Linked DNA regions of Homo sapiens: region 2 is linked to region 1. Evidence: fine-mapped expression QTL. A gene starts in region 1. The other region holds a variant in brackets. All regions are shown on one strand. Distances are from middle to middle.

Evidence for each region. PIP is the estimated chance that this variant, and not a neighbour inherited with it, causes the effect.
Region 2: its variant is the best candidate, but not a certain one, in a credible set for the expression of SEZ6L in cerebellum (GTEx, PIP 0.75).

The regions. Positions count from the first base shown.
Region 1 is chr22:26,167,959-26,170,458 of GRCh38, reverse strand. SEZ6L (seizure related 6 homolog like) reads right to left here and starts at 997. Exons shown (of 17, transcript NM_021115.5): 1 at 696-997. The coding sequence starts at 789. It overlaps LOC105372971 (a long non-coding RNA gene), which reads left to right and starts at 1,225. Exons shown (of 6, transcript NR_188586.1): 1 at 1,225-1,456. RefSeq lists an enhancer at 1-18 and a silencer at 845-974.
Region 2 is chr22:26,337,039-26,340,050 of GRCh38, reverse strand. The region is part of intron 9 of SEZ6L (seizure related 6 homolog like); the gene reads right to left. Among named protein-coding and RNA genes, the nearest start is that of ASPHD2, 91 kb to the left of the region's middle. The variant A/G (reference allele first, on the strand shown) is at 1,671.

The sequences.
Region 1 (2,500 bases):
TGCTAGGCAGTAGGGGAGAGAGTAGAGGGGAGCCCGTTCAGGTTCCCAACTGCTAACTAACATCTCTTCTCCCTCCCCTACCAAGTTCTCAGAGCCCTCAGCCCCCTCCACCGGCCTCTAGCGAAAGCCACACCCAAGTCCGGTATCCTGACGCTTGGCTGAGATCGATCCAGGAACACAGACCCTCGGGGTAGCCTGAACCAAAGGAGTCAAGGGTTTCTGTGGTGTCGGGGGGAGCGGCAAATGCACTGTTTGAGTCTAGTCCTCAGTTGCAGGGTGGGTCAGCTTCTCACCCCCCTTCCTGTCCTCTCCCGGAGAGGAAGATAATTATCTGGCACCTAGCCCCGGGTGCGGTTGCAGAGAAGCGCCGGGAATTTGGGGTTTGGAGGCGACCCCACTCCAAGGAGAACCTCTTTGGCTGCAAAGGAGAATCAGCCCCGCAGCCGGGGAAGACCGAAAGGGAGCCCGCAGCCGAAGCAGGGAAGCGCCCGAGTCCTTCAACACATCCCCGCCTCCACACTCCCATCAGCCCGGGCCAAGGGGACGTGCGGTTCCTAGCCCCGATTTTGGACAGCCACCACCGCTTCCCATCCCGGCGGGTGGTGCCTGAGTCGCCCTGGTCAGCCCCGACCCCTGGCTGCCCCGCTCTCCCGGCAACTTTGCCCCCTGCCCGCCCCGCCCCTCGGGGCGCTTACCTCGCTCCAGCGCTGCCGCCGGGCTCCCCAGGAGCAGAGCGAGGAACAGCGAGATCCCGCGGAGTCCCGCGGCGGGCGGCCGGGCCGCGGGCATCGTGGCTGCAGGGGGCGCGGAGCCGCTGGCTGTGGGGCGGGCGGACGGCGAGGGAGCTGGGGAAGGAGGGCGGCGGTGAGCGAGAAAGGGGAAGCGGGAGCGAGGGAGGAGGCCGCGGGCCGGGGCAGCTTCCGGAGCCCCCTGGGCGGACGCGCGCTCAGCCCCGCGGTCGCTCTGGCCGAGCTGCGCCGGGCGCGGGCGGGCGAGTGAGGAGGAGCCGGCGAGCGAGCGAACGAGCGTGGAGCGAGCGGGAGGAGGGAGGGGGCTGGGGCCGAGTCTGTGCCGAGCGAGTGCAGGGAGGGAGGGGGCGGGCGAGCGGGCAGTGAGCTGGAGGGGCCGCGGCGGCGCCGGGGGTGCCAGCCGCCTCCTCTGGCCGCCGGCCCGTCGGCCCTGCAAAGTTTAACGCCAATTCCCCTTGCGTCCTGGGAGCCGAGCGTTTTCTCTCCCTGCTGACGCTCCCAGCAGCTCTGCCTGGCCAGGCCAGGCTGGAGAGCACCCGGACCATTTTCCAGACGGTGAGATGGAGCCCTGGAAACCGAGCTTATGAGCAGCCCGGAGCTTTCCATTGCCTGCCCAGCCTTCCAGATACATCCCAGTTCCAGTTCTTTCCAGAGCCCTCTGGGATCCAGCCAGCCTGCTTCCCCGCCAGGGCCTCACTGCTTCCAAAGTGAGTCCCCATAACCTAGAAAGTCTGTAACTCTGTGGATCTGGTGACAGCTGTGAATCTACTAGAACACTACACATAGCCACAAAATCGTGCATCTAACACGAGGGGGTCTGGACCCCTCTGAAGCCCAATCACGAACTCTAAATTAAGATCCACCTCCACTTTTTAATCTGAGCCCTGTCTCCCATAACCCCACTGCCGGCAGGGCACTAGCGCTGCGAGGCTTCCTCTCAGGTCAGCCGCTTGCCTCTTCCTGTACCCGCTTCCCTATCTGAGCAGGACTACAAGGCCCACCTCTGCAGCATTCTTGCCCAGGCCTGATTCTCAAGCAAAGTCTTTTCTCCACAAATAGAGGTAGTGAGGGACAATCAATGAGGGAGATAAACAGATACTTGGGGACAGACATTGGCAGAGAGCTAGGTGGGGACAAGCTTATGCACAGTCCTGGAGACTGACTGTCTCTCCCTGCGTAGCCTTGGCAGACCGGTCAGGCTTTACAGGCCTCTCACCCAATTTAGAAGCTGTCCTCCTCCCCCTACCCTACCTTGCCATACTATCTACACACTGCAGCCTGAACAGGCAGAGGGAGCAGATGGAGAGAAGGTTGCAGGCAGCAACAGGGGGAGGAATATGTCTTTAGCAGCGTGGTGGAGCCGGGAGTCCCTAGAAAGAATGGGTGGGGGAGGTGAACACTGGATGGAGGAGGGAAGGAGAAGCACTCTGGCCCAGGGTTTCAGAAGACGCTCCACACCCAGAGCTTCCCCATTTACTCACTCAAACAATGCTCTTTTACAGGCCACTGACTATAGGCCCAGACCTGCCTCAGGCTTTGGGGGACAGAGAGCCCCCCCATAAAATCCTATCTTCAGCTGCAAGAGGTTTCCATTCCTGGCAGTAAACCCAACTGGCTTTTATAAAGAAGGTGGCTGAGGCAGGGATGCAGGAGTGCTGATTTCTCCTTTGGAGAAGATGAAGCACTCCATGCTTTACTGTATGAGGCTGCCAGCTCTCTGTGGAATGACCTTGCCTGTTTGTGGCTATACG
Region 2 (3,012 bases), 170 kb before region 1:
GTTGCCCAGGCTGGTCTCCAAATCCTGAGCTCAGGCAATCTGCCCACCTCGGCCTCCCAATGTGCTAGGATTACAGGCGTGAGTCACTGTGCCCGGCCGTCAGTTGGGTTTTTGAAGACACATTGATGCAATGGTCTTGGCTGCATGGGACTCATTGCAAAGTCAAATGCTGCATTGTAAGAAGAATCACCTTCAAAACTCCCATTATTGGCAACCATTTCTTAGGTGACATCTCTGTGTTAGGCACCAGGCTACAGGCTGGGGCTATGACCTGCATCTTTCATTCTTCTTCAGTGCAGAACATGCTGACAGCTTGCTAATTACAACTTGCATTTTTATATAAGGTGAAATGATCTTTCCATTTATCACGGGGCAAATTCCTCAGAGTCAACTGAATGATCCATTATGTTTAAGGGGTAGGGCAGAGGTGGGATGGAGGCACCTTACTTATGAGATATGCTCAAACCTGTCACCATTCATACTGTTAAAGGATGACACATTTTCAAAGACTCCAATGCAAGAAAGTACCTTGACACTAAATAATTAAACCACAGTGGATAGTTAATAATCCAGAAATCACTTCACTATACCACAGAAACATGTGCCATCTCAGACATGCTAGATAAAATTGATCTCTAATTGAAAGAATGCCAGATAATTCACCTTTGGCTTCATCAATCATGGACAGATACAAACTCACATTTCTTTCTTTCCTTTCTTCTTTCCCTCTCTCTGTCTTCTTTCTCTCTCATGTCTTTCTCCTTTTCTTGTCTCCTTCTCCTTAATGTTCTTTTTTGTTTGTTTTTTTGAGCATCTACTATGAGCCAGGCACTGTGCTGAGCTCAGAAGGGTCACAGAGTAGTGATCTATTTAGATTTGTAAGCCAGGGATTGTGGCAGGAGTTATAACCAAAGTAAGGACAGAGAAAGTAAGGACAAACTCAGATTAGGGGCATCATGGAAGCATTCCTGCAGTAGGTGATGCTTCTTGCTCTGAAACCTCAAGAAAGAGTAGGAGACCTCGAGGCAGATAAACACAGAGTAGGGAGTCCAGGTGCAGTGGCTTACACCTGTAATCCCAGCACTTTTGGAGGCTGAGGTGGGAGGATTGCTTGAGGCCAGGAGTTCAAGACCATTCTGGGCAACAAAGAGAGACCCTGTCTCTACAAAAAAAAAAAAAAAAAGAAAAAAAAAAAGTCCGGGCGTGGTGGCTCACGCCTATAATCCCAGCACTTTGGGAGGCCGAGGCAGGAGGATCACGAGGTCAAGAAATCGAAACCATTCTGGCCAACATGGTGAAACCCCGTCTCTACTAAAAAAAGAAATTAGCTGGGCGTGGTGGCAGATGCCTGTAGTTCCAGCTACTCGGGAGGCTGAGGCAGGAGAATTGCTTGAACCTGGGAGGTGGAGGTTGAAGTGAGCTGAGATTGTGCCACTGCACTCCAGCCTGGGCAAAGAAGCGAGACCCTGTCTCAAAAAAAATTTTTTTTTTTTGGTGTGGTGGTGCACCTCTGTAGTCCTAGCTTCTCAGGAGGCTGAGGCAGGAGGATTGCTTGAGCCCAGAAGTTTGAGGCTACAGTGAGCTATGATTGTGCCACTGTACTCCAGCCTGGGCAATAGAGCAAGAACTCATCTCACAAAACAAAACAAAACAAAAGAAAACAATGAATG[A/G]TGGGGAGAAGGCAGAGGGAAGAAAGGAGTAAGACCATGGTTCCTGAAAGAATTTTTCCAGTGGTCAGTGTGCCTGGGGTATGGGGATAGGCATAGAAGCCTGCAGAGTTCTGCAGGGATTAGATCATGAAGGGCTTAAAGAGCCAAGCTTCAACTTTTGGACATCATCTTGCAGGAGACGGGGAGACACTGAAGGGTTTTATACGGGAACTGTATGACTGAGCAATTCAATGCCAGAGGAGAGGTGTTCTGGGAAATGGCCCTGAGCAGAGTTCCTGAAACTGATGCAGACTGACAGTGGCCCTCCCTGCTGATAGCTTCATCCAATGGCCAACAGTGGTGTTTGCTGCTAGTCCGGGAGTTGGGAGGTGAGGTGGCAACTACCCATGTTGGTGTTTCAGGTGGTCAGAACAAAACAACAGAAACACAAAGAAAGGTATTGAAAGTTTGCTTCTGGGAGGGCAGGGATTGTATTTTATTCACCCCAATACCTTCCACCATACCTCTCGTAGTTCCTCATGTAAAGTTGCTCCAAGGGGTGGCTTAGGAAGATTTTGATTGCCGCCATAATTTTCACCAGTTTCCCCTATGCTACTCCCAAAACATCTTCAAATAAAAGCTACCTGCTTGCTTTGCACACATGTCTTCAAGACAAAATCCCCAGACTCCTCCTACCCCCCTGACAGTTTTTAACCAGATTGAAGCCCCTAAACCCCTGCTGTATTGAAATTCTGGAGTTGCCACTTGTTCTTGCACACAGTAGGTGCTCAATAAATGCTAAGGTATGAAAGAGCCTCCCAGAGAGTCTACTTGACAGCAAAAATAGTGGGACTGATGTCAGCTTTGGACCTGTAGTAGGGGAGGGCCTCTTTAGCTCTACGTACCATGAAAACATCAATTGTTCATGAAAGTGCCGGATTAGACTAGTGTGAAACATGGTAGATGGCAGATATATTCCTTAAGCCGACTTCACAGCTGATCCGCTGGTAACAGTAGTTTACAGACAATGCACATCTTGGCTTTATTCTTTCACTTAAATGGCCAAAACGCAGTAGCAGCATCTTCAAGGGTGAAAATAGCTTTCATTTTAAAACCATACGGCAACTCTTTGTTCTCCATAAAATAGGATGGAGCAATGTGCAGGGAAGAGCACACTGGCTTGGAAATCAGAAAGCTTTGGTTTGATTCTCAGCTTTGTCACTTTCATGGAAGGCATGTGATTTTTCTGAAATTTCTTGTCTGTGAATCAGCCTTAATATTCCTCGTCTATGTCATGAGCTCTGGGGATGAGGTGAGGCAGGCAGAAGGTCTGGATTCAAATTCCAGCTTCAGCATTAGCACC